Linked DNA regions of Homo sapiens. The protein of the gene in region 1 interacts with the protein of each later gene in a pairwise test. Each region holds a gene or a part of one and is shown in the gene's direction. Other genes may lie near its edges. The genes, in order: PLSCR4, KRTAP19-1, KRT82 and KRTAP1-5.

What was found.
Region 2: the proteins of PLSCR4 (region 1) and KRTAP19-1 interact in binary tests that used the Homo sapiens proteins (3 or more experiments, as listed by UniProt).
Region 3: the proteins of PLSCR4 (region 1) and KRT82 interact in binary tests that used the Homo sapiens proteins (3 or more experiments, as listed by UniProt).
Region 4: the proteins of PLSCR4 (region 1) and KRTAP1-5 interact in binary tests that used the Homo sapiens proteins (3 or more experiments, as listed by UniProt).

What each region holds. Positions count from the first base shown.
Region 1 is NC_000003.12:146,241,099-146,248,145, reverse strand, and holds part of PLSCR4 (phospholipid scramblase 4), read left to right. Parts: intron 1-7,047. UniProt on the Homo sapiens protein: Catalyzes metal ion-induced ATP-independent rapid bidirectional and non-specific movement of phospholipids (lipid scrambling or lipid flip-flop) between the inner and outer leaflet of the plasma membrane and participates in the redistribution of phospholipids between membrane leaflets.
Region 2 is NC_000021.9:30,479,205-30,485,222, reverse strand, and holds KRTAP19-1 (keratin-associated protein 19-1), read left to right. Parts: upstream 1-4,855; 5' UTR 4,856-4,905; coding exon 4,906-5,178; 3' UTR 5,179-5,517; downstream 5,518-6,018. UniProt on the Homo sapiens protein: In the hair cortex, hair keratin intermediate filaments are embedded in an interfilamentous matrix, consisting of hair keratin-associated proteins (KRTAP), which are essential for the formation of a rigid and resistant hair shaft through their extensive disulfide bond cross-linking with abundant cysteine residues of hair keratins.
Region 3 is NC_000012.12:52,393,424-52,396,375, reverse strand, and holds the end of KRT82 (keratin, type II cuticular Hb2), read left to right. Parts: intron 1-143; coding exon 144-364; intron 365-585; coding exon 586-617; intron 618-1,180; coding exon 1,181-1,401; 3' UTR 1,402-2,445; downstream 2,446-2,952.
Region 4 is NC_000017.11:41,025,499-41,032,003, reverse strand, and holds KRTAP1-5 (keratin-associated protein 1-5), read left to right. Parts: upstream 1-4,795; 5' UTR 4,796-4,848; coding exon 4,849-5,373; 3' UTR 5,374-5,978; downstream 5,979-6,505. Other genes in the region: KRTAP1-4 (keratin-associated protein 1-4), read left to right, coding at 1,926-2,291. UniProt on the Homo sapiens protein: In the hair cortex, hair keratin intermediate filaments are embedded in an interfilamentous matrix, consisting of hair keratin-associated proteins (KRTAP), which are essential for the formation of a rigid and resistant hair shaft through their extensive disulfide bond cross-linking with abundant cysteine residues of hair keratins.

The sequences.
Region 1 (7,047 bases):
TATTGCAAGAACAGCAGTGAAGAATTTTGCTTGAGGGATTTCACAACCAGTTAACTTTTATAAACAAAAAATACAGCAATGTTCATACTCATATGTTCACCAGCATTGTGCTAAAATTCATTTTTATAGTACTCATTCTTCAGGATGAAAGAGATAGATATGCTAGTCCTTAAAAAGAAAAACATCTAAAGTTGGAAAAAAATTGTTTTTAATTGCATGGTAAGGCTGGGTGGCGGTAGCTCACGCCCGTTATCACAGTACTTTGAGAGGCAGGGGTGGGCAGATTGTTTTAGCCCAGGAGTTTGAGAGCAGCCTGGGAAACATGGCGATACCCCACCTCTAAAAAAATTTAAAAATTAGCCAGGCATGGTGGCACCCACCTGTAGTGCCAGCTGCTCAGGAGGCTGAGGTAGGACAATTGATTGAGCCTGGGAGGTCAAGGCTGCAGTGAGCCATTATCATGCCACTGCACTCCAGCATGGGCAACAGAAAGAGACCCTGCCTCAAAAATAAAACTGCATGACAAAAATGCAGTGAAGACAAATGATAAGTTTTGAAAAGATAATTTTAATATAAAATTTTAATACCTTTCATATAAAGAAGACAAATGAAAAGCTAACAAAAATGAACAAATGACAAACAGGCAGTTCACAGAAATAGAGTTGCAAATTGCTTTCAAACAAATAATAAAAGTGGCTCAGCCTCCTCATTATGAGATATATGGAAAATAAAACCAATTTTTTTTTTTTATATATCAGATTGACTACTACAAAAATGTTGATAAAATACTGTATTAGGAATGTAACTTTTTGTCTGGGGTCTAAATTGATTCAAATTCTTTAGAGTGCAGTTTGATAGTATCTTTAAAAATGTACAAAACTTTGATCCATCAGTTCTGCTTCCAATAATTTAATGCACAGATCCACAGGAAGAAAATATTTTTTTCAGCATTTTTGGTAATAGCCTAAATTTGGAAACGATTTAACTTGTTGTCATTAGGCAGCCAGTTAAATACATTATGTTGCAGCCATTAAAAAGAATGAGGTTATATGGACTGAAATGTAATTAACATCAAGACATTTTAATAAATGAAAAGAAAAAGACACAGAAAAGTATATAGATGATTGCCATTTTATAAAAACTGTGTGTATTAGTTTATATATGCTTAGAAAATCTATTGGAGGAAAAAAAATCTAATGTCTGTGGTTGCCTTTTCAAATGGGAAATGGGAATTGGAGTAGGTGGGATTTTTTTGTATAAATGTATTGTGTAAATGTATGCACTGCCGACTCCTTGAATTATATTTGTGTTTGTTTGCACATAACATCTGTTTTTTAAAAGTCTGTTTTCATAAATGTAAAGTTTCTTATCAAAGTGACTTAACTGTATGCAACATGACATCTTGTTTTACTACAATTTTAAATACTAAAAGACTAGCTGTAAAATGACACAATGAGGCGTTCTTGGTAATCATAGTTGGCATGGTAATGTTTCCTTAATGTCTTATATAAACATCATGAGAATATTGTTCTGATATTTTTCTACTCTAAATAACAAAAACATTTCCCTTTTGAAAGCTAAAAAGGAGACACCTGATATTCTCTTTAAACAATTTGAACTAAATTAATATATTTAATAAAGGTTATGTATGGACTGTGGCTATCAATTTGCTTTCATTTAATCTTATCTTTTATTTTATATTAAAGCCAAATAGCTAACCTCCAAGATCCTTCACACTTGCTAAAAAGAATGAAATATTCTACCATACACTTTTTCTTTTGAAGGAGTCATGATGTTAATAAAATAATAAATATATTGATATAGGTTATAAAAACAACACAATAAAAATCTTAGGTTTTGCCCTTGTAATTTGTTGAACATTAATCACTCCCTAAGTTTCTTCTAGAATTGATTTTATGCAAAGATACAATTAAATACATATATGTTAACATGTAATTATAATGAAGATACTGTGTATCTATGGGACATTCCTGCTGCAGCATATTTTATCAACATGGACCTAGGTTTATCTTTTGTGCAAGCCTGGAATTCGTTTCTCTAATTTCAGCCCATGTGACAGAAACTTACTAAGTTTACAAGATGTCTACAGAAATGACTGAATCCTTCAGTCATTGGACTTTAATCCACTCATATTGAGCCCACTGAACTATCCAGTTCCCTATAGCCAAGAAACCCATAAAAGTAATTAACACAGTCCACCATAGGAGCCAAGAAATTTGGCTTAAAGTCTATAAAGAGGATTGTACTTGGAAAGGTGTGCATAATATTTCCTCTTTGATGAACATGCAGGTCTTTTTAGTTACAGATTCACTACAAGAGAGTACATTGTCAGGTTTTAAAAATTATTTTAAAAACTCAGTTTATATAATTTATTATACATTTATTGTAGAAAATTTAAAGAGGAAATGTTTATATCTTAGCATGTTTCCTCCAGTTTCCATATTTTTTAAAAACATTGCTATCATTATAATTATCCAGATTATATGTTTAACATTTGAATGTAAACATTTAATGATTTTTACAAAACTGTTACTATATTTTTAAAGGAAAATTATTTTATCATAATGTTTCATGATAATGTGTTTACTTAACAATTGTGCTTGATATTTATGTAGTTTACAATCACTACTATTTTCGTTTTGCATTCCTTCTGTGAAAATGAGAATGTATCACTTAAAAATATTATATGGCATATTTTGGATTTATTTTGAATTTGGTATAGAGGAAATTTACTTGGGTTTACAAATGAGATTTGAGAAAAAATAGATATGTCTTATATTGGTAAACTGAACATTTGATTGAATGTATTATGATTCCTACAGCAGATAGGTTTTTATCTGAATGGGGTAAAATTTCATAGATCTGTAACTGAGGGGGTGTGTGTTGGGGCCAGGAGGGGATATATTAAAATCATCTGGGAAATGGCTTCCATTTTCTTTCCTTATCCATAGAAGCAATGATCCTTTTAAGCTTTATCATGAGACTGCAACAATTCGGTAACATCTTCATGCTTCACTTCTAACTCTTAGTTCTCTTGCTATTCTCTCACATCTGCAGGTACTTCATCCAATGAAGTCTTGAACCACGCAAAATCATCCAGGAGGGTTGGAATCAACTTCTTCCAAGCTCCTGTTAATATTTATATTTTGACTTCCTCCCATGAATAACAAAAGTTCTTAGTGGTATCTAAAATGGTGAATCCTTTTTAGAAAGTTTTCAATTTACGTTGCCTAGATTCATCAGAGGAATCTAGGCCTAGCTTTTGGCCTGTCTTTGCTTTCAGCATGCCTTCCTCATTAAGCTTAATCTTTTCCAGCTTTTTGACTTAAAGTGAGAGATGCACGAACCTTCTTTTCACTTGAATATTTAGAGGCATTTGTAGGCTTATTAATTGGCCTAATTTCAATATTGTTTTGTCTCAGGGAATAGGGAGGTCCTAGAATAAGGGGAGAGATGGGAGAATAGTTGCTCTGTGGAGCAGTCACAACAACACTTACTAAGTTCACCATCTTATATAGGCATGGTTCATGGGGTCCCAAAACAATTATAATAGTAACATCAAAGATCACTGATCATAGATCACCATAACAGATTGTTATGAAAAAGTCTGAAATATTGTGAGAATTACCAAAATTTGACAAAGAGACAAACTGAGAAGTTGCTGTTCTGCAAAATGGCACTGATAGACTCCTTGATACAAGGATGCCACAAACCCTCAATTTGTTTAAAAAAATGGAGTATCTGTGAATCACAGTATAGCAAAGCACAGTAAAACAAGGCATGCATGTACATAATGAGGTATCTTGAGAATGGGACCCAAGTAAACATGAAATTCATGTTCCATTATGTTTTAAACATATAGCCTGAAGATAATTTTATACAATATTTTTGATAATGTTGTGTATGAAACGTTTACGTACGTTGAACCATCAGAAAGCAAAGGTATCAGTATCTCAATCACCCATGTGGACAATCTGTGGTTATTTGACGTCACCATCATTCCTGACTCTAAATTCATTATGCTACTGATAAGTAATCATTTTCTTACATTACTCACAAATAAGTGCTTAACAGTAAAAAATAGGATGTATCATTAGTACAGTGAAAAGAGAATGCGTTCAGGGTAACTAAGCAGCACAGTAGTATCTCCAGAATGCCTGTGTCGGAAAGCCACCAATAAGCAATGGCAGGCTTTCATTCTTTACCTACAATGCTGTATTTTGATTACAAGGTTATCATTCACTGAATTTTATTATTTTAAGTGAGAAGAAATATCAGAAGTAGCCAAGTGACCAGCAAGTGTTTTCTCTACAAATGAGGAAGCATTCTGATGGATGACTTTTCAGAATGTTTCCTCTGGAGTCCGCTGTCTCATTAACAATGGTTTTTGTCTTAGAAGTCTCTGTTGATTTTACAGACTGACACAATTTCTTATTCTGTGATGAATGAATGCTCTTAGAGTCCTTCAGTAAACCCATCACATATTTTCACCATGTCATCTATAGGCACTTTGCAGTTTTAACAGTGTCCTCATCATCTTTCACTTGTGACATCATGTTGGTGCTGAAAGTTTTGGATTTTTGAGCATTTCAGATTTTGGACTTTTGGATTAGGGTTGCTTAGTCTATACAGCATTTTATGTGCCCGAACTCTGCATGAATATTATAATCTTTTCTTAAAGTTAGAGATTGGTTCATCCTTTTTGTTCATTTCTTTGTTTTCAAGAATAAATGACAACACAGTTTTTGTTTTGCTTTCTATTTTTTTGTTTTTCAAGAGTTTTGGAGCATAGTCAGGATCATGATGATAAGAAAGAGATGTATATATGTAACAAACCTGCATGTTGTGCACATGTACCCTAAAACTTAAAGTATAATAAAAAAAAAGATGTATACAGTTGGTAGAGCATATTGTTAGCAGGAGTTTGAGAAGAGGGGTTTCAGTCAATTGAGAGATCCCCATGGAAGAAGCAGGATGAAATACAGATAACAGAACTAATTCTTACAAATTTTTTTTCTGAAAATGGTCCAAGTGTCAATTAGGAACTTTCCAGGTTTGATTTGAAACCCCCACCACAGAATTTGTTTTTCCTCCCTGAGAGATTGATGGGTTACTGTTTTGGGATTAAAGCCTTTGGGGGCTTTCTCTGGTGGAGAAATAGTTCAGACAAAAGGTAGTGGATCCATTAGATGGCTAATATAAAAGTGGACAATGTATTTTCCAGTTGCATGAGTGTTTACCATAAAGGCAGACATCTTGGGGCATAGGGTTCTTTATTTTGGGATCCTCTTGGGCCCTGTAGCCTTTACAACTGTAAAGACATAAACCTGTTTGCCTTTCGTAAGGAATTTTCCCACTGTAGCCATTCTAAGTTACTTTTGCTAAGGTTCTCCCATTCGTCTCGAAAAGCACAGGTTCTGGGTCTCTGGTTTTTATACATGAAGTTGGCTAGAATTCCAGAGGGCGAAGCTCTAGCAACCTTTGACCAGATAAACCCATGATTCTATGTCTTTTATTAACCTTTCCTACCTACTAACTGAGTTGAGTTTATGTCTGACCCAGTCAAATACCTGAGGCCTCCCTACTGGGCCCAGTCCTGTTGTTGGCATGACTTTGAAACCCAGTGTAGATCAAAAATGCTCAAACTCAGCTCAAATCAGAAGTTCATGAAGCTTAGATTCAAAAATCTCACCCATGACCCCAGTTGCTGCGAAAGAGCAGTGAGTACACTGGGCATGCTGGGTACCTTAACTTGGTCACTCAGTGCTCCTGGGATCACTGGAAGTTTGCTTCAAGATCTGACTTCTCATGTGAAACTCTTAAAAGAAAAACTTTAGGCAAATTCAGCAGAGTTTATCTGAGCGAAAAACGATTCATGAATCAGGCAGCCCTCAGAACCAGAAGAGTTTCAGAGAGCTCCACCGAGCAACATGGGCAGGCAGTATTCATAAACAGAGGAAAGAAGTGACGTACATAAATCAGTTGATTGGATCCAGCCTGGTATTTGCTTTATTTGGTCATGGTGTGATGAGGCATTTGCCTTCAACGGACATGGTCTGATCAGTTGACAGCCCGTGATTGGCTGAAGCTCCACTACCATCATTGGCTGAGACTCAGCTACTTGTTACAAGAATACAACCTCAAATCAAGTTGCAGTCTGCTATTTACAGAGGCAGCTTTAGGCCCAATTTAATTTATCAGGTTATGATTTAGATTACGTAGAAATGTGTTGTTTTATTTTTATGTGGTTAGAGAATTTCCTGTTATCTTGCGGTTAGTAATTCCTAGCTCATTACATTATGGTCGGAGAACAAGCTGTATTATTTTAATTTTTTTGTAATATTTTAAGATTTGTTTTATGAGCCAGAATGTGGTCTGTCTGGGTGAATGTTCCGTACGTTGAAAATAATGGTTATTCTAATGCTGTTGGGTGGGTGTCCTACAAATGTCAGTGTTGGTTGATGATGCTGTCTAGTTGTGCCAATATCATTGCTGATTTTTCCTCTGCTTGTTCTTGTAGATTACTAAGAATGGAGTGTAAAAGTCCTCAACTGTAACTGTGGATTTCTCTTTATTTTTTTCAATTTTGCCAGTTTTTCCTTCATGTATTTTGAAGCTCCATTGTTAGGATCAGTCATGCTTAGGATTGCTGTATCTTGTTAAGAAATTGTCTCTTACTTTTAAGTGATAGCCCTTCTTATCTCTGGTAATTTTCTTTGCTCTGAAATCTACTTGTGAGATATTAGTATAACCACTCCAGCTTTCTTTTTCTCTGTAATGACTTTGTTGAGACATAATTCACATACCATAAAATTCACCCATTCAAAGTGTACAGTTGAGTGATTTTTAGTATATTCAGAGTTGTGAAGCTATCACCACAATCTAATGTTAGAATAATTTCATAATTCCAAAAAGAAACCCATGCCCAATAACAGTCATTTCCCATCTTCTTGAAGCCACAAATCTACTTTATGCCTTTATAAACTTGCCTATTCTGGATAGTTCACATCAGTAGAATCATGTACT
Region 2 (6,018 bases), on another chromosome or scaffold:
AGGCTGAGAAGTCTCATGATCTTCTGTTTGCAAGTTAGAGGCCCAGGAAAGCTGGTCTAGTACTTCCAGTCCAAACCCAAAAGTTAGAGAACAGGGGAGTCAATGATGTTAAGTTTCAATCTGAGACCAAATGCTCTAACCAGGAATGCTGATGTGTGAGGATAGGAGAGGATGAAGATCCCAGCTCAGAGAGCAAACTCCCTTTGCCTTCCCCATTTAGTTCTATTTAGGTCTTCAACAGATTAAATGATGCTCACATACACTGGTAAGAGTGATCTTTACTCAGTCTACAGATTAAAATATGAATCCTTCTGGAAAAACCCTCACAGACAACCCAGAAATAGTTTACCAACTATCCCAGCATCCCTTAACAGAGTCAAATTGACACTTAAAATTAAGCATCACAACATTCATATCATTAAAACTGTAATAAAAACAAACTTTCTTCTCACAAATCTTATAATCTATATCCCTAAAACTTAAAGAGAAGTGAACTCTCTTTTTCTATGAATCTTTGCATTATCTATAATCTTCTTTTATTCATAATTTTCTGCTTTCATCTAGTTTGTTATGCATGTACAACAAGCCTGACCTAAAAGTCCTTGATAAACTGGATAATAAAATGTGAATTGTAGTCATTCAACTCATTTCACTTGTCTTTTTATAGGAATATTGTGTTCTTTATTATCATCATTATACTGAAGGATTTGTAATGCAGTAGGGACTATAAACACACAGAAACATTATTATGAGGCAAAATATTCTGTAGTTTCAACTGACTAAAAGTGTCATTTAATATTTAAATATATAGAAGTATGTATATTTAAATATATAGAAGTATATATTTAAATATTACATTTAAATATATAGGAGTATATATTTAAATATTACATTTAAATATATAGGAGTATATATTTAAATATTACATAAATTTATATATTAAATATAAATAAATATATTTTTATATTTATATGTATTATGAATAATAAATATTATTTTATTTATATTTCAATATGATTATTGATAATTTGTTATTTATATTTATTAATATATAGAAGTATATGTTTAAATATTAATGAAATATTAATTTATTTATTATATATTATATATAAAATATATAATACATACATATATAGTATATATTGTATATAATGTATATATTTTATACAAATATCATTTTATATATTTCTATATGTCTTATATCAATATCATTATGTATACATACTTCTCTCTCTCTCTCTCTCTATACATATATATATATATACACACACACATATATATATACATATGAAGATAAATTTCAGTGAAACCTCATCCTTTCAAGAAATGGCCAAAACAATATTGTTTTTATAAAACAGAATTTCAGGCAATGATATGTGCCTACAGATGTTTTGTACAAGCTCGCCAAATGTAATAAAATGAGGACAAAAATTAAATCACACAAGGAGCAGAAAGAGGCATTACAATTCTGCAACGCTGTATTCCAATTTTGGAGGCACAGAAATTCAGAATATGTTATTTTTGTCATAATTGGTGCCAAGACTAGGATCAGAATCATGCCATCCTGAGTCCCAGGTTTTAGACTATACTTTGCAGACTCACCTTTTATGCATTTTCTTCTTGATTGTTGTCAGATAACCATTCTGAAAGTTCTGGTCATAGTTGTAAGAAAAGCTAAATTATCTCAACTGCTTTTATGAAGGTTGGCCCTTTTTCTTACATTAACATTGATGTTTCATTTTTATTGTTGCGATATACAGAATTAAACCAATCAAATTTTAGTTTATCTACTTCTGATTGTAACTAACCAATGAGCAATGTTAAAATCAGACTCTAAGTTAAAAAACAAAACAAAGCGCCATGACCTCTTCTTTGAGTCAATGCTCTCAGGGCATTCTGTGTACTACAACAATGGGCTGAACAGGGGAAATACAGCAAAGTAACTCTATGGGAGGTCAGCAATATTGTCTGACCCAGTAGAATAGGATTTCACTAGAAGCATTTTCTTCTCATTTGGATAATGTCCCAGGGATAGTTTCCATGGGGCTGAAAAGCAGTAATCAATATAATTGTTACTGCTATTGTTATTACTATAATCAATCTTATAATTTCATGCTGTTTAAGGTTGTATTGAATAATTTCTGAGATGATAGAAAATTTATAACAAAAATTTCCTTACTTCCAGGAAAAATGTGAGAACATTTTTCACTCTTCCACCTATCAACATGAGTAGAAAATAGGGTCATGAGCTAACAGTTCTTAAAAAGCAATAATGATCCAAATCTACTTTTGATCCAATAAATGGATAGAAAAAGAATAACCCCTCAAAGGAAATTTCAGAGACTTTTTTCACTTGCATATACAGAAAATAAATCAGATTTTTTACATATTCTTCAAATTTTTTTTCTAGTTTACACGGCTAGTGGACAAAATAAGCTATGCATGTCATAGTCATATGTTTTATTCTTTGAAAATACATTTAGTGTTTATTGTACTATAGAAGTTTCGCATTTGTGTCTCATATTATTTCCATATAGAGACAGTTTTATGTATCAAAAACAAACAAAATAGCCTTTAATCATGGTCACATGCTCTGACAGAGCTACACAAGAAAATGTGAAATTCTTAATGCTATGTAATTTATTCATAATTCTAAGTGTTTCATTAGAAATGTATATATGAATTGTATCACTTGACTGATTTTCTGAAATGGAGAATAAAAATGGAATGAAATTGGGTTACAGTAACACAGACATCAAAGAGGAAGGCTATTGTTGGGTTAAATGCTACTCTGACAGCAGGAATCTTGTTGGAACTTGCGTTCAGCCTTACAACATCTCCCAGAATAGCCAGTAAGTTGCTCATGTTATGCTATTCATGGCCCTTGCATTGATGTCAAAGTCATATGCTTCATTCAAATAATATTTTTGAATGCCAACTAAATATGAGACTTTGTTTTGACACTCAGCAGGTCAGAGAAACACCGCATTGTAAAAAAAAAAAAAGTGTGACTTGAACAGAAAGTCATTATGTTTAGGGAAATAAACAGGCACACAAAGAGAGGTATCACATGTTCTCACTCATAAGTGGGAGATAAAAAAGTTAATCTTATGAATGTAGAGAAAAGAGTGATAGATATCAGATGCTGGAATGGGTGTGTGGGTGCAGGAGAGATAAAAGTTGGATGAAAGGTATAAGTTCTATTGCAGAGTGACTATAGTTAACAACAATATACTGTATATTTCAAAGTAGCTGGAAGAGAGAGCTTGATTTATTCCCAACATAAAGAAATGATAAATATTTAAAGTGATGGATATTTCAATTACTCTACCTTGAACATTATACATTCTATGCATGCAATTAAATATCATATGTATCTAATAAGTATGTAAAATATGTATCAATAAAAAATTTAAATAAAATAAAAATTTTAAAATGTGTCATTCGGTTACTCATAAATCTCAAAAAAATCTTAGTAGTATGATTATAGTCATATAAAACTGATACCTTTCTGGAGTTCCAAGTTTCAAGATATAGGTACATCTGGATGAGGCTTAATCAGGTATGAGGTAAGCCTTGGGCATTTCTAACTCTATGGGCTGAGCTGAGGGACTCACTGGTCAACTCTCCCTACAGAGCTACTCCTTCTTTTCTATATTTTTCACAATTGTCCCTTACATTTAGAGAATTTCGTGTTAATCTAAGTTGCACAAATATTTTTTTAAATTTCAGATAATTTGAAGAGTTGAAAAATGTTTTAAACAAGAAACACCATAATCAATATCTTAGAAGATCTAGTTGATTTCTCAGGAAAAGATAACTAGAAAGCGGTTAAAACAAAGCACAACAAAAAACATGGGCACAGAATAGGCAAAGACAAGGGCAAATATTGACTATGGAGATCTAAATGGAAAGAATGAATGTTGATTTGAGTAAATAGGTTGTAGCCAGAACATTTTACCTACTTCAAACTTTTACCTGGTTATAGTAATGAATTGTGGAGGAAAAGAAGTTGGGTGAAATTTGAAGTGAGATCAGCAAAAGATGCAAGAGGGATGAATTAATGACAAAAGGTAGAGAAAGAGAAACAATTCTGTATGAAGGCAGATTATAATCTTCATTTTTTGGTAACAGTGAGGTTAGAACATATAATGGAGAAGGGACTTGAGATATAAATAGAAAACTCTGGAAAGACCAGATGAGATGGGCTTTTGATCCCTGTAAGAGTCTCTCCACTTATGACTACAATTGTGCTATGTTCTTAAAACAAAACAAATATTTTGTATGCTGTTGTGCAAAGCCCAAAATAAATATAACAATTGTGCATGATCAAAGTTTTAAAAGTCTACAAATTAGGTGACATTTGTTTCTTTCAGGTACATACACAGATGAATCAAATCTTTCTTGCTTCTCACTCTACAAAATATGTGTGTTTTATGAAGAAACTGATGAAAGTAAGAGTCTTGACCTTGGCTATTTCTTGAAATTTTGTGGAATCAACTATAACCACGTCCAAAAATGCTAGTGATGAGAATATATTTGAATAGAAATTCAAGAATTTTTAATGTGACTGATGTTAAGTGACTGGTAATAAAGAATTCTATTTAAGGTTTGGTATGTTTTAGACTTTGAAGAAGCAGCAATCCCTTCTAATAAAATTAAAGCAGCAAGCTCAGGGACAACCTAACTAGGTAGCCAAACAAGCTCAGGCAATCTTACTGAGTGTTGTCAGGGGACAATAGATTAACGAGCTGCCTCAGGCAAGTATAATTCATGGAATGACACAAAAAGAGGGGCACATGTTTATCACATGCTCTGACCAGGGTATATAAACCTCCTATACATGCTGGCATTCACACTCAGGATCTTGCCTGAACAACAAACCAACTCACCACTCCTGACACCATGAGTCACTACGGCAGCTACTACGGAGGCCTGGGCTACAGCTGTGGAGGCTTCGGTGGCCTGGGCTATGGCTATGGCTGTGGATGTGGCAGCTTCTGCAGACGGGGTTCTGGCTGTGGCTATGGAGGCTACGGATATGGCTCTGGCTTTGGAAGCTACGGATATGGCTCTGGCTTTGGAGGCTACGGATATGGCTCTGGCTTTGGAGGCTATGGATATGGCTGCTGCCGCCCATCGTACAATGGAGGATACGGATTCTCTGGCTTTTATTAAATGAATTGCTGAAATTGGAAGCAGAGGAGAAACCTCCAAATGTGTTTGGTCCTGTCCCGTGCTTTCATTCCAAAAATCCATTCTATTGCCTTCAGCATCAATGGAGAGATATTTAGCTATGTTAAATCTTTAAAATAGATTTAAGCTGCTTCTGTGAATATTTGTTGTCTTTTTACTTTCGGAGTCCGTCACCTGAAATCATATTCATGTATAACTACTCTAGGTTGTTCTTCTAAATTTGCTTTATTTTTCTTACCACCATTACCTTGATGTTATCTATCAAGATCCTAGCAAAAACTTGTATTTTGCTTTTATCTAATAAATGAAGTAAAGTATAAATATTTTAGTTCTTGTCAATGTTTCCATTGTCATATTTAACATTTTATTTTGCAACTACTATAAAAAGTTTACTTATGAGGCAGTGAGATCTGTGGCTCCATGGTGGAATATGATGAAAATGTTTCTAGTTTACTGTGTTAACGGAAGCTTGAGAACAAATAAGATATCATATTAACAAGAGATAAAAATAACTTGCCTGTCTATTTACTTAGGATGTCAGCCCCTCTCAAGTGTCCCTCAAGTGTTCCTGGAATCACTAAGGATAGTGTCATTCTCATATTCTGCTGTGCAACGTTGGTTGCTGTTAGCTGAACGTCTTCTTGGTACCCCTGTTCTGGCCAGGCATGTGTTTGCTTTTTGTCCACCCTTCAGTTGAGGTTGCGGCAAGGAGATTGGGAAGTTTCACTCATTTCCTACTCAGAACTACATTCTATATTTAGCATCTCCCTGAAGGCCATTGTCCAATATTTGACTGAGGCAACTCCCACTGAAATGCGGCAC
Region 3 (2,952 bases), on another chromosome or scaffold:
AGGAACCAGATGTCGCAATCCTAGGATGAAGCTCGCAAATGTGAGCCTGGCACGTAGCCACCCCCGTGTTCTCTCTGCTCTTCTGCGAGTCTGGCTTGGGGCTCCAGGGCCCCCAGTGATGCTTTTCTGCGCCCCTCCCACAGCGCTGCAAACTTGAGGGTGCCATAGCTGAGGCAGAGCAGCAGGGCGAGGCGGCTCTCAATGATGCCAAGTGCAAGCTGGCAGGGCTGGAGGAGGCTCTGCAGAAGGCCAAGCAGGACATGGCCTGCCTGCTCAAGGAATATCAGGAGGTGATGAACTCCAAGCTGGGCCTGGACATCGAGATCGCCACCTACAGGCGCCTGCTGGAGGGTGAAGAGCACAGGTGAGCTCCTCCAGGAGGGGGTCAAAGATGGGCTACCAGGTATGGCCATTACCCAGCCCTCTGGTGGCGGCTGCTAGTATCTCTCACCCCGTCCCCTACCCACATTCATTGAAAACCCACAGCAGCACATGGTCCACAATGAGGGCGGGAGCGGGGAGATGCTGCATTTACCTGCATCTGTTTGATGTAGATACCTGTTTTCTTTTTCCTCTCATCCCCAGGCTGTGCGAAGGCATCGGGCCCGTGAATATCTGTAAGTAGATGAGCCATGCCCCACTGGCTCTGGAGTCTTGGGGGTTGATCACCCCAACACAGGCAGCCCACACCACCCCTTCCTAGACCTCTGATGCCTCCCCTACCCCAAAGGAAGAGCTCTGTCTGCCGTGAGCTCCCAGGCTGGTGGAAAGGGCTATCCAAATCTTTTGGGAGTCAGACTAGGAGCAGATTTGCAACAACATGGTCCAAGTGCTTCAGGGCCCAGAAGCCACAAATAACCACCCTGACAAGAGGATGCTCTTCTAGAGGAAGAGGATTTGAAGCAAGCTTAGGAAGGAGGGACCAGTAGAAACTGAGAAATGGTGAAGCTGAATCCAGCCTGGCCTTGCCCAGGCTCTAGGGAAAGGAGAGAGGTGCATGGGGACCTTGCAAGCACTTTATGTGGCTAGGGTGGGAGACGCGGAGGCTGGAGGCTGGAATGGGGTGTCTGTAGAGGTGAGTGGCAGGAGGTGGGAGGAATGGCCTGGCTGAGTAGTTTCAGGGCAGTACACTGAGAGCCACACCGTGTGGGGCCCTGAGCACCCCTTCCTGTTCCCACAGCAGTGAGCAGCTCCAAAGGCGCCTTCCTGTACGAGCCATGTGGGGTCAGCACGCCTGTCCTCAGCACTGGCGTCCTCAGGAGCAATGGGGGCTGCAGCATCGTGGGCACTGGTGAACTCTATGTCCCCTGCGAGCCCCAGGGGCTACTGAGCTGTGGGAGCGGGCGGAAATCCAGCATGACGCTAGGAGCTGGGGGCAGCTCCCCCAGCCACAAGCATTAGCATGATCCGAGACATCCAGGAGACAGAGCCCCTGCCCCATGGCCCTGGATGTCACACTCCCACCAGGGCTGAAGACAAGGATGTTCCAAAACCCCACCTCCCTTTATTGACTCCACATTCCCCTCCAGTGTTCCCTCCTTGAGAGCTGAGCTGCCCCTAGGACCCCTCCTTTGCCTCATGAGTCACCTTCCACTCACCTGTGTGCAGACCCTCAGCTAGGCCCAGATGGTGGGGACAGACGGCAGAGAAAGAGCATGCATTGCTCTTAACCGCAGAATGGCAATAACCCCCAAAAGGTCAAATGGGCACACCACAGTTCTGCTCTGTGGATCATCCCATGGAAGTTTCCTCACAAAGTCAGCTCCTCTCCCACCACAGGCTCACACTGCCCTTACTTTAGGCTCTCATGCCCCTAAGAAAAGTGAATTTCCTTTAACACCGCCTGAAACATGCACACTGCAAATATCAAAAGGAGACACCCCCAAATCCCACTCTAAATTCCAAAGCCAAGTGCCACGATTTCAGGATCAGTCAGGACCTGCCAATGTCCTCTCAGCACAGAGAATCAAGAGGTGGCCTTTGGGCAGTAGATTTACTTTCTCAGGTATGTTGAACCCAAACTGTGAGAATAAATCTTTCTCCTGAGCTCACATTGGCAGGTGATGTCAGGCCAATGCCTAGAACAAAGGGCAAAGGGATATGGAATGTTTACTGGACAGTTGGAAAACCAAAAACAGATACCATTTTCTCAATGGAATCAGTTCCCCCTCCACCCATCCCCTTCTGTACATAGCCGCCCCTTCCTGTTCCCCAACCCTTTAGCTCCTTTTGCTTTGAGTCTGATATGACAGTGATGTGGGGCTGCCCCAGCTGACTTGGAGGCCCTGGCTCAGGAGCTCATAGATGGAGGAGGTGTGGGCTGACTACCTCCCAGAAGCCCCTCATGCCAAGCCTGTCCCACTGGGGCTCCAGGGCCTCTGCCCTGAACATCTGGGCTTCTGTTCAAAATAAACCTACTCTGTTCATGGATTATAGCAATCAGGATTATTTACTCTGCTCTGTGGAAAGTGTGATAAGGCTGAGGGGGAACTGGTGAGCAGCTTTTTGGGACTGGAGTCTTCGGAACAGAAATGAAGACTATTATACAAACAGAAACACTACATGTAAATAATTTGCAAATTGCCTGTGGAAGAAATAGGGCTCTATACAAATCACACTTAAAACCTGCACGTCACACCCCAATGGTTTGCAAGTCACTTGCCATGTTAAAAGCCACAAGCCCATTGCACACAGGCCTCCTCACTACATGGTGTCCTATACACATCCTAGAGAAAATCCTTGGGGTCCTCTATTGTGTCTAGACTTAGCAGCCCCCAAGCCCTAGGCTCTGTCCCTATCCCGAACCATTCTCAGTGCCTGGATACCCCCAGCTCCAGGAAAGCAGTGAAGATGGTGGCAGCCCATGGAGTGAGGAGGACCAGGACACTCCAGTCTCCTCTCCCCATTTAGAGAGCCCAAGACCTGGAGATTTGGCGGCGGTGCTTCCACCCT
Region 4 (6,505 bases), on another chromosome or scaffold:
GTGTGTGTGTATGTGTGTGTGTATCACATTTTCTTTATCCACTCATTTAATGATGGACATGGACACTTAGGTTGCTTCCATATCTTGGCTATTGTGAGTAATGCTGCAATGAACATGGGAATGCAGATGTCTCTTCAAAATACTGATTTACTTTCCTTCGGGTATATACACAGAAGTGGGATTGCTTGATTATATGACAGTTCTATTTTTAATTTTCTGATGAACCTTCATATTGTTTTCCATAATGGCTGTACTAATTTACATTTCCACCAACAGTGTGCCAGAGTTCTCTTTTCTCCACTTCCTCTCCAACACTTGCTATCTTTTGTCTTTTTGATAATAACTATCTAATATGTGTGAGACGATATCTCATTGTGGTTTCAATTTGCATTATCCGATGATTGGTGATTTTGAAAATTTTTCATATACCTGTTGGCAATTTGTAGATTTTTTTTGAGAAATGTCTATTTAGATTTTTTGCCCATTTTTCAATTACGTTATTTGTTTTCTTACTACAGGTATTGAGTTGTTTGAGTTTCCTCTATACTTTGGATATTAACCCTTTATCAGATATGTGGTTTATAAATATTTTCTCCCATTCAGCGGTTTGCGTCTTCACTCAGTTTAGTGTTTTATTGGCTGTGCAGAAGCTTTTTAGTTTGATGTAATCCCACTTGTCTATTTTTGCTGATGCTTTTGGATTCATGTTCACAATATCACAATATTGGCCAGGCAAAAGTCATGGAGTTTCCTCTGTTTTCTTCTTATAGTTTTATCATTTTGAGTCTTTCTTACATTTCAGTCTTTTAATCCATTCTAAGTTGGTTTTTGTATATAATGTGAGACAATGGTCTAATTTCATTTCTTCTGAATGTGAATGTGGTCAAATGATTTTCAACAAGGGTGACAAGACTATTTACAAATGGTTAAGATGGTTAATGTAAATGGTTCATAAATTTTATGGTATGTATATTTTACCACAATTAAAAATTTGTAACTATAAACATGTGTAGGAGACCCAAACTTTTCTGAAATAGAAGATATATATGTATATATGCTGGTTTATATTTGCAGAAGCAAGGATAAAGGTGTCAAAGAATGTGCACCAAATTCTTAATATTGATTACCTCTAGAGCATTAGTTTTGGAAGAGATGTGTGCATCTTCCAGGAAGGGAAAAGACACTAATTTTTCTTTATATACCTCTGTACTCTTTGACTTGTTACAATGTGTACTCATTACTAGCACATATGTTTAATTTAATAGAGTCAGAAAACAATCTACAAGCAAAAGTCATTAAAGATTTTAGTTAGCAATTTGTACATTCACTATTACTGAAGGCAAGAATATTAGATAGAGCTCTGAGGATCCTATAACTTGCACAAATTGATCATAGAAAGGCATACTTGGTTTGAAAGTTGATACATCAGGTTGTAGTTCATGTTTTGATGACACTAATGTTAGTCTTTCCAAGTCTGGACAAATTGTTTATAAAATCATGATCATAGTTAAGTGACCATTTAAGGAAAAATGATCAGTTAAGATAAATTCTGCCTAAAGGTTATCAAAGGACAACTATGACAAAACGTGCCAGGGCGACACTTGGCTCAAGGCTAGTCTGTCATGTGACTTGCATAAAGAGGCACTTCGGTGCTTGGCTTCCATGATGAGCCTTCACTTCGCCCAGAGGGCAAAGAAGAAACATAATGAGACTTAATTGTACAATGGAAAAAGGCTATTGAAATGCTATTTATAACTTTATAAACACCTCAGGTATTAGCCAGAGACTCACACTGAAATTGACATCAAGAAAAGGTGTTGGGTAAATATGCAGCTCTAGGGAACATATCAAAGGACAGATATAGAAGGTACAGCCCAAACTCAGAAACCTCTCTTAACACAGCTCTCAACCCAACTCCTGACACCATGGCCAGCTGTTCCACCAGTGGGACCTGTGGCTCCAGCTGCTGCCAGCCAAGCTGCTGTGAAACTAGCTGCTGCCAGCCAAGCTGCTGCCAGACCAGCTCCTGCGGAACCGGCTGTGGCATTGGTGGTGGCATTGGCTATGGCCAGGAGGGCAGCGGTGGATCTGTGAGCACCCGTATCAGGTGGTGCCACCCAGATTGCCACGTGGAGGGCACCTGCCTGCCCCCCTGCTACCTGGTAAGCTGCACACCCCCATCCTGCTGCCAGCTGCACCACGCCGAGGCCTCCTGCTGCCGCCCGTCCTACTGTGGACAGTCCTGCTGCCGCCCAGCCTGCTGCTGCCACTGCTGTGAGCCCACCTGCTAAAAGCCAGGTTGCTGATCGCTTAAGAATGAAAGGGGAAGCACAGCAAAATTGTGCTGATTTCTGAAGAACTGTTCGATTTTACTTGGATGCTAAGTACCATGATGTTGTTAAGCTGCTCAGAGATAATGAAACTCCTAGTTAGGACACTGTGGATGTGCCGAATTCACTTACTGAAAGATGTATCAATCAGTGTTCTGGATAGCTTGCGTTGCTTGAGCAGAGGACCAGGATGGAATAGTTCATCATTTCAGTGACATCTCTGCTCCCCCAACTCTCTCTTGATGCTCATGCATCTTCAGACCTGGTTTTTCCTTGAATATCTCTGATTAATCCAAATAAAATGTTTTAATGTGCAAAGCAAACTGAGTTATGTCCTCCTTCTACCTTTAAACATGTCTTCTTGTAGCTGGTATTCAAGAGTGGATTTGCAATTTGATAATAATACCAAGGCATAACCATAAAGTCTAAACCAGAAAGATTAAATACAAAGTAAATTATGCTTGAATCCATCAGCTTAAAAATGCTCCATGAATTAAAGAATTTTTATAGTTCAAATATTTACATGCTCTAATCTATTATGATTAGGTCTAGACCAATAAAGGTTGACCTTTAGCTAAAATGTTAAGGTTGATCAAAGCTATTGATTTCTATCTAAATGTAATTCTACCATCTTTTGTCTCCTTCCATTTAATATACTAAATGTTCTCCTTCATTTATGCCCCAAAATCTAAAGAAATTGCATTACCTTCTAAATAGATTTAAAAATAGCTACTAGATACTACCTATTTTCCAAGAGAATTTAGGTTTAATTTCTACACCTTAGCCTTTCACATTCTTCCCACTGATCCTTGAATTGCTCTCTAAGCTTCAACTCCCACTATTCACCTTCATTTGATGTACGTATGCATAAGGTGTATCTTTGGTCTAAATGATAGTAGAAGAAACAGCTATAGAGAGCACCCGCTGAGTTCTACCATTGCCATTTGTCAGACAGAAGTGTTAGAAATCTGAAACAGCTCGATTATATTTTGCACTTTGCAACCCAACTTAAAAGATATTCTCTTAAGAAGTTAACACGCTGGACACGGTGGCTTACGCCTGTAATCCCAGCACTTTGGGAGGCTGAGATGGGTGGATCACGAGGTCAGGAGATTGAGACCATCCTGACTAATATGGTGAAACCCAGTCTTTACTAAAAATACAAAAAAAAAATTAGTCAGGTGTGGTCGTGGGTGCCTGCAGTCCCAGCTACTTGGGAGGCTGAGGCAGGAGTATGGCGTGAACCTGGGAGGCAGAGCTTGCAGTGAGCCAAGATCACGCCACTGCACTCCAGCCTGGGCAACAAGCAAGACTCTGTCTCAAAAAAAAAAATTAACACAACCTAGAACAAAACAAAACATATTTTACCATTTAATTTTTAAATTCTTCATTAGGCATTAGAGTGTAATACACAAAATACAATAGGATGCAAATATAGAAAGAAACACGTTTTCCACATTATTTACAAGCTCCCAGAACTTACCTCTATATTTAATTGGTAGCAATGATGGATTACACACAAAATTATGCAATTTCCAAGAGGAATAAAGTAGATGGCAGTACATTTTTCAAAGTGTCATAACTCCTAGATATTTTTTCCCGAGCCCGGTTCCACTACTAAATCCAAAAAATAAAATAAAATAAACCAAAAAACACATTTCCTAGTCTCTTTACAGCAAATAACAAGACTCTTTCATGAGAAGTACTACAGCTTGAAAGTTCTCTTTAATCATGTTTGAGTGGTATTGATATCCATGAATCAAGCCTTTTACTCCACCTATTCAATAAACATTTATTGAATCAGATTCAGTAAACATTTATTAAGGTTCTACCACAAACTAAGGACTCTGCTGGATACCTTCCTAAATACTATGTCAGTTTGGTTCCCAAGAACAGATTTCTGGTCTGGAACAGGAATAATAGTCACACATTCCAAATTGGTTGAAATCAAAGGAACTATAATCGGTAATTCAATAAGACATTGGAACAAAAAAAGGTGAAATCTGCGAATTATGTATGACCAAAGGTATTCCTTCAGTTCAGTAGATATCCAGATATCCAAAATTCAATAAAATTTAGTCTATATATCTAGGAGGAAAAAATAATAGTTAAATATAACAGCACAATTATTACTCTTAGCCTTAGAGGTATGGATAGATTGTCACGTGGAATAACTATTATGTAAAATGAGAGCATTCATTTGGACTAAAATGGAAGTACTCTTTGAACATGGGAAACCACAAACATATTCCAAAGAGCAAAGGACTGATATGAGGAGTCCAGAAGAAACTATAAAACAGTAATTTCTAAACTATTGCTCATAATGTGTCACAAGTATTTCAACATAAGCCAATCAGAGATCCACGGAGTAACAAATTTAAACAAAAACAAAGAAAATATGTTAACAATTTTGTAAACAGCAGCTGGTTCAGATATATAAAAGGACCAACGTGGAAGTCACCACCAAACCTCAGAAACTCCTCCAAGCAACCTAACTCTTAACCCAACTTCTGACACCATGACCTGCTGCCAGACCAGCTTCTGTGGATATCCCAGCTTCTCCATCAGTGGGACCTGTGGCTCCAGCTGCTGCCAGCCAAGCTGCTGTGAGACCAGCTGCTGCCAGCCACGCAGCTGCCAGACTAGCTTCTGCGGATTTCCCAGCTTCTCAACCAGTGGGACCTGCAGCTCCAGTTGCTGCCAGCCAAGCTGCTGTGAGACCAGCTGCTGCCAGCCAAGCTGCTGTGAGACCAGCTGCTGCCAGCCAAGCTGCTGCCAGATCAGCTCCTGCGGAACTGGCTGTGGCATTGGTGGTGGCATCAGCTATGGCCAGGAGGGCAGCAGTGGAGCTGTGAGCACCCGTATCAGGTGGTGCCGCCCAGACAGTCGTGTGGAGGGCACCTACCTACCCCCCTGCTGTGTGGTGAGCTGCACGCCCCCATCCTGCTGCCAACTGCACCATGCCCAGGCCTCCTGCTGCCGCCCGTCCTACTGTGGACAGTCCTGCTGCCGCCCAGTCTGCTGCTGTGAGCCCACTTGCTGAAAGCCAGTTTGCTTATTTTCAATTGCCTAGGTCACAGTGTCTCTGAACTGTTCATCCCTTGACCACCTCTGGACCACTAACAAGTTCTCAGACTTTGCATTGCTTGTGATGGAGACTACTAAGTATATGAGCTCACAATTCTATCTGATTCCATTCTACAATGAATACCTTGACCCTTCACTGGGGACACAGAAATGCTACAAAGCCACCTGCTGATCATCAATTTGCTTGGGATATACTATTTCTGATATTTCTGCAGGATTAAAAATTACTGACATGTTGTGGAATTTATCCATGAGAACTATCCACAAGTCTAATGTTTCCATGCTTTATAATCTATTTTATCTTGTTTACCTAAAATTTTTTGCAACATCAAAGACACCAAATTATAGCCAAGTGACATTCCTCAAGTCACCAGAGAGAATGGAAGCTCATCACCCAACATTCAGCTTCTAAGAAGTAGGCTGGACTTTCCACATTTTAACATCTGATCCATCCCTTGGTTTTTGGATCATAATGATCTTGCCTGCTGGATATTTCAGTTATATCTGTGATACAATGTCTTCTGTCATTTCTTAATAAATATTATATACTAGGCAAAGAAACCATTGTCTTTGTTTTCACTTGTACATCACCTGGTTTAACTGCTTATAATTCAAGAATGTCTACTTGAGGCCAAGAGCAGTGGTTCACACCTGTAATCCTAGCATTTTGGGAGGCTGAGGTGAGTGGATTACCTGAGCTCACGAGTTTGAGACCAGCCTGGGCAACATGGTGAAACCCTGTCTCTACTAAAAATACAAAAAAAAAAAAAAAAAATTAGCTGGGCGTGGTAGTGCACACCTGTAGTCCCAGCTACTTGGGAGGCTGAGGAAGGAGAATCGCTTGAACCCAGGAGGCAGAGGTTTCAGTGAGCTAAGATCATGCTACTGCACTCCATTACACTATGCAATAAACTGCAGCAAGCTCTCAAAATGGCAATTTCCTATATATGACACCAAAGAAGACATAAAGTGCATTAAAAAGTTAAGTAATGGTAAAAAGACACATATTTCCAAGTCGAAAGCAAATGTGGGAGCTTTTCTTTTATTGAGGATCATTGGCCATGTAAGGGTAGGTGGACAACGAAAGG